3 separate regions of the Homo sapiens genome follow, and regions 2 and 3 are each reported to be linked to region 1. The links are microRNA targets in miRTarBase. Many come from high-throughput screens and were not tested one by one. Region 1 holds a microRNA gene; each other region holds the end of a gene's coding sequence.
What was found. The annotated mature microRNA hsa-miR-6758-3p reads ACUCAUUCUCCUCUGUCCAG and lies in region 1 at 1,979-1,998, shown strand. An mRNA with a match to its seed (bases 2 to 7 or 8) in the 3' UTR can be bound and repressed. Matches are read on the target gene's strand: a 7mer-m8 pairs with bases 2 to 8, a 7mer-A1 pairs with bases 2 to 7 and ends in A, and an 8mer does both.

Region 1 (3,000 bases):
AGACCCTGTCTGTATTTAAAAAAAGAAAAAATTGGTTGGGCACGGTGGCTTATGCCTGTAATTCCAACTTCCAACACTTTGGGAGGCTGAGGCGGGAGAATTGCTTGACCCCAGGAGTTTGAGACCAGGGTGGGCAACTTGGTGAAACCCATCTCTACTAAAAATACAAAAATTAACCAGGTGTGGTGGCACGTGCCTGTAGTGCCAGCTACTCAGGAGGCTGAGGTGGAAGGATCACTTAAGCCTGGGAGGTTGAGGCTGCAGTGAGCCATGATGTGCCACTGTACTCCAGCCTGGGTGACAGTGAGACCCTGATATGGACAAGATTAGCACATCCTCTGCACAAGAATGACATGCAAACTTGTGAAGTGTTCCATATTTTTAAAAATTAAAAAAAAAAAAATTTTTTTTAGGGACAGGATTTTGCTGTGTTGCCCAGGATGGTCATGAACTCCTGCCCTCAAGTGATCCTCCTGCGTCAGCCTTCGGAGTAGCTGGGATTACAGGCGCAAGCCACTGCCCCTGGCTGTGTGTTAAAAATCTAGTTAAGGCTGGGCAGGGTGGCTCACAACTGTAGTCTCAGCGCTTTTGGAGGCTGAGGTGGGCAGATTGCTTGAGCTCAGGAGTTCAAGACCAGCCTGGGCAATGTGGCAAAACCCTGTTTCTACAAAAATTACAGTCTGGCATGGTGGTGTGCACCTGTGGTCCCAGCTACTGGGGAGGTTGAGGTAGGAGGATTGCTTGAGCCCAGGAGGTTTAGGCTGCAGTGAGCTGTGATTATGATTGCACCACTGCACTCTAGTCTGGGCAACAGAGCAAGACTCTGTCTCCAAAAAAAAAGTTATATATTGCCAAATTGTGCTCCAAAAAGGTTATATGTGTTTATCCTTATGCTAACCATATATGAGACTTTCCTAAATCAGCCCTCTTTCTCCGTTATCTCAGCTGGAGAAGCGACTGGAGGAGTGGTTGGGGAGGACATTGCCTGGCAGTGACTGGACACCCAATGCCCAGTTTATCACCCGTTCTTGGCTTCGGGATGGCCTCAAGCCACGCTGCATAACCCGAGACCTCAAATGGGGAACCCCTGTACCCTTAGAAGGTTTTGAAGACAAGGTAAAAACCCTTTTTTATTCATATCATTCAGCCTTAGTGTTGAAACCCTGGGCTAGCAGAGTAGACTGCTGATTATGTCTTGTTTCAGTTTGAGACTTTGGATTGGTCCCTAACATGTTTACCTCCTTCTGACCTCCAGGTATTCTATGTCTGGTTTGATGCCACTATTGGCTATCTGTCCATCACAGCCAACTACACAGACCAGTGGGAGAGATGGTGGAAGAACCCAGAGCAAGTGAGCAGTTCTTGGTTAGGCTGTGCATGGGGAGGGTAGGCGGTAGGGTGTGGGTGTTAGGGTTGGGTGTCTGGTCTTCCTTGGGCCTTTGAAGGAGGTCTCAGGAAATCTCTCCTAACCACATTCCCCTAGGTGGACCTGTATCAGTTCATGGCCAAAGACAATGTTCCTTTCCATAGCTTAGTCTTTCCTTGCTCAGCCCTAGGAGCTGAGGATAACTATACCTTGGTCAGCCACCTCATTGCTACAGGTAAGTACCCTGGAAGACTACTGATGGGGTGTTCATAGGAAATGAGGGGTGAGGCAGTACTTGGAAAAAGATCTTGGAGAGCTGCTATCTTGAGTTAGGAGTTGAGCTGAAATAGGAAATAATTAAAATGAGAACTCAACCTAGAGAAACGAACAAGAACCTGAAGAAAGCAAAAGTCTAAAGCTAAAACTCTTTAGTAGATATAAGCAAAGAGAAAAAAGGGCCAGAATGGATAGGAAGGGACTCCCAAAATCTGAGCATACCAGCCCCTTAAGGAGAAATGTTGCTAGACACCCATAGTTGAGGTTAGAAAGAGGAAAGAAGGAAGAGTTAGTGGGCTAGAGAGGGGAAGGATGTGATGTGAGCAGATGGTTCTCACTCATTCTCCTCTGTCCAGAGTACCTGAACTATGAGGATGGGAAATTCTCTAAGAGCCGCGGTGTGGGAGTGTTTGGGGACATGGCCCAGGACACGGGGATCCCTGCTGACATCTGGCGCTTCTATCTGCTGTACATTCGGCCTGAGGGCCAGGACAGTGCTTTCTCCTGGACGGACCTGCTGCTGAAGAATAATTCTGAGCTGCTTAACAACCTGGGCAACTTCATCAACAGGTAGGACTTGGTAAGGGGTCAGAGTTAGCAGTGAGCTGGGGTGGGGCTCATTTTCCCTCAGGAGATGGGAATGTGGAGAGAACTAGAAAATGGGCAGGAGGCTGTGAGGACACTGTGGAAAGTTGATTTCTATTAATTGGGATCTGTTCCTAGCACATACTAGGCTATGTGTGCTTGATGGAACAGTTAGCTGTAGAGATGTGATTTAGCAAAGTTGGTTATAAAGTGGGTTTTTGTAAATTGTTTCCTTATTACTGTTCTTTGTAGAATTGAAGATGTATTCTCTCCCAGCAAAATAGTTCACCTGCAGATCATTGAAAAGTTTGGCTGAAGAAAGGGGTTATTTTGGTGTGGGGGTAGGAGGCTTCTGTGGGCTGGGCATGGTGGCTTACATTTGTAATCCCAGCACTTTGGGAGGCTGAGGCAGGAGGATCACTTGAGGCCGGGAGTTCAAGACTTGCCTGACCAACATAATGAATCTCCCATCTCTACAAAAAGAATCAGCCAGGCGTGGTGGCGCACACCTGTAGTCCCAGCCACTCAGGATGCTGAGGCGGGATGGTCTCTTGAACTTGGGAGATTGAGGCTGCAGTGGAGCAGTACTCGTACCCCTACACTCCAGCCTTGGCAAAAGAGGGAGATCCTGTCTCAAAAAAAAAAAAAAAAAAAGGCTTCTGCTATACTCTTCAGAGTTCAGAGTTTTTGTTACCTTAGGCTCACATTCTATCATTGGTGCCTATCTCAGCTCTTCTGCAATCTAAAGCAGTATTCTCCAGAATTTAGGATTC
Region 2 (3,352 bases), not on the chromosome of region 1:
TTAGCCAGGATGGTCTTGATCTCCTGTCCTCGTGATCCGTCCACCTCGGCCTCCCAAAGTGCTGGGATTACAGGCATGAGCCACCGTGTTCGGCCAAAGATATCTTTCAATCTGGCTGTAGGTTCTGCAAAATTTGTTTACATTAATTATAATTTTCTGACCTTATTTTTCTTCTTTCTGGAATTCCTACAATTTGGATACTGGAACTCCTGGACTCTAACTTATGTATAATATCTCTTTTCTCCCACCTTAAATATTTATTGTTAATCTATCTAGTGTCTGGAAAATTTCACACTATTTTCCAATGATTTTTTTTCTTTTCTATTAAGTCTTATATTAACAGGAACATTTTTTTCTCCTCTTGAGATTTTCATGTTTTGTAGCATCGTTATTTTACAGATGTAGTATCTTATAACTCTAAGGATATTAACACATTTGGCAGGGGGAATTTTCTTCTCACTGCATTGCTTGATTCCTCAAAGTTGTTTTGGTACTCTCTTTTGGTTTTGGATTAGAGGCTTTCACTAGATCTCTCGTAATTCTAGATGGAAGTCTCATGAATAAGAGTTGGGGGCTAAAACACTGACCTGAGTATGGACTTCTCAACTTCAAAGTTAATTGTTCAGAGTGAGCCTTTTTCCCAGCCAATACTTGGTGTCAATCTTTTATATTCTTCTTTGGTATAGTGGACAGTATACATAAAGCCACTTAATCTTGTTTCCAGTACAGTACTCTGTATAAAGGAATTTGGCCTTGCCCTTGGATGTTATGCTACATAGGAATGCCTCTGTTTACCTGGGGATCTTGAATCATACTGAATAGCCTTGACAGTATGATTTATGGCTGGGGTGGGACAAATCTATACAGTCTTATGGTGGGGGGGGTGTACAACACATCAGAAATACCAACAATGTGATTTAGGGTGGAGGTTTTGGGTCATGCACGAGCAGCTGACCTAGAGACTGCGATTAACCACATGGACAATCAATCATGGATATGTAAAGCAGCCTCAGTAAACACTCTGGGTTCCAAGGCTTGGGTGAGCTTCCCTGGCTGGCAATACTCTGTGCATACTGTCACACACTGATGCCAGTAGAGTAATGCTTGCTGACTTCAGAGAGACAGGACAAGAGCTGTGTTTGGTACTTCTCCCGGGCTCTGCCCTCTCCTCTTCCTTTGGCTGATTTTGATCTTTAACATTTCCCTGTCATTAACTGTAACCACGAATACAATAGCTTTCATTGAGTTCTGAGTCTTTCTAGCAAATTATCTAAGCTGAGGGTTGGTTTTAGGAATCCTCCAGGCTTACAAGTACTCTTGTCTTCCATTCACTCCGACTTCTACCAACCAGTCACTTTTTACCTTCCAGATGCCAACTGTGGGGGGAATAAAGTTGCTTAGCAACGTGGAAATGGGAGAAGCTATAAGGCTTCCCAGTGTTCACGCAATCGTCCCTATTTCTGTGCCTCTTCTACCTTTCATCCCAGAGGTTAACTGGTGCTGTGAATTCTGAAATGTAAGTAAGTTTATCAGTTCCTCCATTGATTTAGAATTGGGGTTTCCTGGGTCTACCAAGTTAGTTAACACCGTCTATCTGCTTTCCAATTCCCCAAGTTCTGGTTGTTTCCTCTATTTTCTCCAACTTGTGGGTTTTTGTGTGAATGCATCTGTTGTAGTAGCCATAGGGATGTATCATTCAGATCTCCCTTCAAAAGAATCTGACATGAGGAGTGTAGTTGGTACTTTCAGATCCATCAAGGCATTTGTGCGAAGGCCACGCTCCCCTTGGTCTCCTCCCAGAAACTGACTTGAGGAAGTCAGAGAAACAAAGCCAGGCTATTTCTGCCCAATTCTGAACTCTACTAAAAGGAATCCTTGCTTGGGAACTCTCCATTGGCCTGACCAAGACTTCATCTTAGAGTTGCACTGCAGTCTAAGTTTTTGCTAATCAATCTTCATTTTCTCTTTTTACAGGTGTCAGACCCACACTGCAGTCTGAAGGCTCTCTCGACCTACGCTTGCTCCATCTCCCGTTTATCCTCCATTTATGTTTCCTCTAATAAATTCTTGCACATCTAACTTTGTCATGTCATCTGCTTCTCTGAGGACTCAAATTATCACCTGGGATTTTGGAAAGAAGTTTTATTAGATGTCTAGTCCACTGTCTTAATAAGAAACCACCATGAAGTTTTTATGTTCTTCAAAGTTTACACATTTCAAGTTTCATTTATCTATGGGAGAATGAATTACTTTCAACACATTTATATCTGAGTTTGTTTATTGTTCTGATTTACTGAAACTTAAAATATTCCATCAAATTATCCAGGAAAATCCAGGTGGCAGAAATATATAATATGTCCATTTCATCAAGAGGTCTCAAATAAATTTTAAAAGGCCAGAAAATGATATATATACTATGCCATTTAAATCACTTCTATCTTCTGTACTTAAGAACTCAAGTATAGAAATAAACTGTGGGCTGAAGTAACATTGTAACCTGCTCCCAACATGACTGCATAGGTGTCTAAGGTTAAGTGTGAAGATTACTGTGAGGTCTCAAGTTACTTGACTAATCAATCCCATTTGAATTTCAATCCAAGCAGCATATTTTACACACACCTGAAGGAAATATCTTCAGTGTGTTCATGTGTGTGTCTATGTGCATGTATGTGTAGGGGATAGGTGTAATTAGGGAAGGGCTGACCGAACAACATTGATAAGTACATGCTAGAAGTCTGCTGTTGTTGGTAACACAGAAACATACACAGTCTTCATATTCAAAGTCTTCACGGGGATGTCTTCTGTAATTTCTAGAATGGAAAGAAAAAGTTGAAAAAAAATCAGTATTTTACCTATTGGGGGTGAATATTTAAAAAAATGTTAACTGCTTGTGTAGTAAGGAATTTGGCCTTATCCTAAGAGTTCTGCCTTTTGTCCCAGCTCCTGAGGTGAACCTCTAAATCCTTGGAATTTCCTGGTAGGAATCTTTGTTTCTCATGGTGGGTATGTTCACCAAACCTGACAGTTGTTGCTAATGAGACAATTCAGGGTAGTGCTGGCCAGGACAGAAAGACCAAGTATATGATTTAGGATGGGGACTTTGGGTCACATGGTATATCAGTTGAGAAAGACAGCAATCATGCCTACAGAATGAAACCTCAACAGAAACTGGACACCAAGGCTCGAGTGAGCTTCCCTGGTTGGTAATATAGTCTCTGTGTTGTCAGATGTAAGGGATGAGAGGAAGAAACATTATCCATGACTCCAGGGTCTCTCTCTCTCTCTCACTCTCGCTGGTTCTAACGTGTATCCTTTCCCTACCCTAATTCAAACCATGAGTGTAATACCTTTT
Region 3 (3,000 bases), not on the chromosome of region 1:
ATTCAATAAAAGCAAACCTTCCTTTGTTGTTCGGATCTTAGCAATGGGTTTAGTAGTTTTAACTTCTTCCATTTTGAAGCCTTCCATTTTTAGCCTTAAGTAGCTAGACATAAAAAGGAAAGGAAGGAGAGATCATGTAAGTAGCTAATCAGATAAATGAAAACTGACTTGAAGTTAAGTTTTATTAGCCCTTTCTTTTCTTGAATTGAGTAATAACATCTCTACTTTGGATTATGTTCAATAACCAAGAAAACAAACAGCACTTAATTTTAAAAAAACAAAAAAAAAGAAACCCAAATTCCATGAAATAATAGCTTGGTAATAGTATTAATATTCCAGAAAAAATATAAGAAATTTGGTATTTAAAACAAAACAAATAACCAAAATGCTTTCCTCATCTACCAAAACCCAACATTAAGTAAAACTTAAAACAGGCAATTTACCACCTCCATTGAAATGAATACATAGTCTCCAATTTATGTGTGTTGTATTCTAAAGTAAGGACAACTGAAAATCAAGATGTGCTCTCCACAAAAAGTGATATAAATGGCAGCTCAAGAGTTCCAGATAGTACAACACTACAAGGTGTTCTCAACAAAAAGTCTTTGTTAGACTTCAATAATACTATTTGGTACTTCTATCAGCAAATAGGAAGCATTCCAATACTTATTAGATCCTCTACCATCAGACACAGAAATTACCTAGAAAACAGAAATGTATTGCCAAATCTCAAACAAGAGGGCTGATTAAAACAAACAAAAACACCCTTAAGACGTCTCACATACAGAAATCATGGCCATCTTTGGGTTAAGATTGGCTGATTTTCCAGTAGTGCTGGGGTAGGTCTTCCTGATAGAGGGGTCCAGGCATGGCAGGGTCCCGTAAGCGGCTGGTGAGGAGGACCCACTGCTTTGCCTCCTACCAGTGATGAGCGAGGCTTTGGGGAAGGACTATGCGTCCATCACTCCTGATGTTCTTTTCATGGCTCCCCTTCTCAGCTATTGTCCATCTACCTCCAGATGGCAGCAAACGACTTATCTGAGCCCCTTCTTCTCATTTAGATATAAAGTGCAAATGTCTGATTCAGGTACGAGACTGTATGGTCTTTGGTTAAACGTATAATCAAACAAAAAGTATAAATGATACCAGCTCCTTCATTTTTCTGGCAAGAGGAGAGTAACAGCTATCCGGAGAGGACTAGGGAAAGCTAAGGAATGGATTCAAAAGAGAAGGGAAAGGGTAGAAGGTAAAGCTGAGGCTCGAACTTTTGCTTAGTGCCAGCATTGTTGATCTGTAGCTGAGCAAGCTTACATAAAGGCATGTATACACAGGCACGGAGCTCTCTAACATGGAATTGAAGTGAAACCCTGTCTCTACAAAAAATCAGCCAGGCGTGGTGGTGGGTGCCTGTAATCCCAGCTACTCGGGAGGCTGAGGCAGAAGAATGCTTGAACCTGGGAGGTGGAGGTTGCAGTGAACTGAAATCGCGCCACTGCACTCCAGCCTGAGCGACAGAGCGAGACTCTGTCTCAAAAAACAACAAAAAAGAAAGCACTGGTACTTCATGTAACAAATTATGATTTGCGTATGTCTGTACCTTTACAACATTACTGGCACTTGTATAAAGGAGATTCCTTGTCAAGGACTGAATCAAGGAACTTAACACCCTATTCCAGAAAAACAAGTATGCAATACTAGTAGAAGGAAGAAGAAAGCTTCTGTTTTCCTAGGCACAAGGCCTGTCTTCAAGAAACTTTCAAAACAAGTAGTTAGGCTTTGGCTGGCTTCTACACCATCTGCAAACGCCCAGGGCCTTCATGCAACCTTTAGCTACCTAGGGCTACCCAGTACCCTAAAGTGCCCTGCACCTTAAAACTCACCTGTTTTCTCCTTTTTCATTTCTGCCCCTATCAAAACTTCTTTTCTGCCAGGTGCAGTGGACCAACATCTGTAGTTCCGGCTGCTCAGGAAGGTGAAGTGGGAGGATCACTTGAGCCCAGGAATTTGAGTCCAGCCTGGGCAACACAGCAAGACCTCATTGCTTTAAAAAAAAAAAGTAGGGCTCAGTGGCTCATGCCTGTAATCCCAGCTACGTAAGAGGCTCAGGCAGGAGGATTACTTGAGCCCAGGAGTTCAGGGCTGCAGTGAGCTGTGATTGTGCCACTGCACTCCACCCTAGGTGACAGAACAAGACCCCATCTCTTAAAAACAAACCAACCAAAAAACACAGGTTTCGTCTCAGAGAAGCGGGGTGGGCTCTACTTAGTAGTAGAGTCTCTTAAAACAATCAACAGTAGTGTAATTTATCAATAATCAGATAGCAGACATCCCTCTCAGAGATCTATATATTTTCAGCCACAAAGCTTAAAATCTCAAATGTCAACGAGTAGGATTTCAGGCAAAATAAAAGTAGAAAATAAAAATCAGAATGTAGATCCATGTTGGGAGAGGAGGTTAACTTTCCAGGTAATTCATACTGAGATTGTTTACACAGCTCCTGCGGGTCCGGCTTTCTGTGGCTTTCTTTAGCTAAGGCCAGAAATTCAAAAAAATCCCAATGGTTATGGAGATCCCTCCTCACCCATCCATCCACCCAATGAGAAAGAAGAATTTGTGGAGGGCAGGGGATATCACAAGAGAAAATGGCACACCAGGGTGTAATGTCTCAAATAAAAGGCTTACTTTACACTTAATACTAGTATATTACTGTTCATAATAATATATCGTAAAATTATCATGTTATAAAAATATATAATAAGATCTTATAAGAAACTCTGAATGGATTGACGCTTGATAATTCTCTTAAGTAGAACACAATGAAACAGTAGTGGCTGGCTAAGTTCCATCAATTTTTTTTAATTCTTTTTGACTTTTTCTCGTGGTCTTCTGTTATCCTTTCTGCAGGTCGCTTCTTCAACCCCTTCATTTTCCTGGTTTGTAGTTTGCTTAGGTCTTGCTTCTGCATATGAATCCTTCCATAAGTTGTACCAAAAGTATCAT

Region 2: the mRNA of IARS1 is a reported target of hsa-miR-6758-3p. The part of its 3' UTR that is shown has no 7-base or 8-base seed match.
Region 3: miRTarBase lists RPF2 as a target of hsa-miR-6758-3p. Seed matches in the 3' UTR shown: 7mer-A1 at 1,052-1,058.

What each region holds. Positions count from the first base shown.
Region 1 is chr12:57,510,753-57,513,752 of GRCh38, forward strand. MIR6758 (microRNA 6758) reads left to right here and starts at 1,936; the gene lies at 1,936-1,998. It overlaps MARS1 (methionyl-tRNA synthetase 1), which reads left to right. Exons shown (of 21, transcript NM_004990.4): 12 at 946-1,116; 13 at 1,256-1,351; 14 at 1,484-1,601; 15 at 1,999-2,212. It also overlaps the pseudogene LOC124903093.
Region 2 is chr9:92,208,080-92,211,431 of GRCh38, forward strand. It overlaps IARS1 (isoleucyl-tRNA synthetase 1), which reads right to left. Exons shown (of 34, transcript NM_002161.6): 34 at 2,128-2,810. The coding sequence ends at 2,728. It overlaps LOC112268048 (a long non-coding RNA gene), which reads left to right and starts at 1,370. Exons shown (of 2, transcript XR_002956919.2): 1 at 1,370-1,516; 2 at 1,975-2,079.
Region 3 is chr6:111,025,428-111,028,427 of GRCh38, reverse strand. RPF2 (ribosome production factor 2 homolog) reads right to left here. Exons shown (of 10, transcript NM_032194.3): 10 at 165-3,000. The coding sequence ends at 2,846. Among named protein-coding and RNA genes, the nearest start is that of RPF2, 45 kb to the right of the region's middle.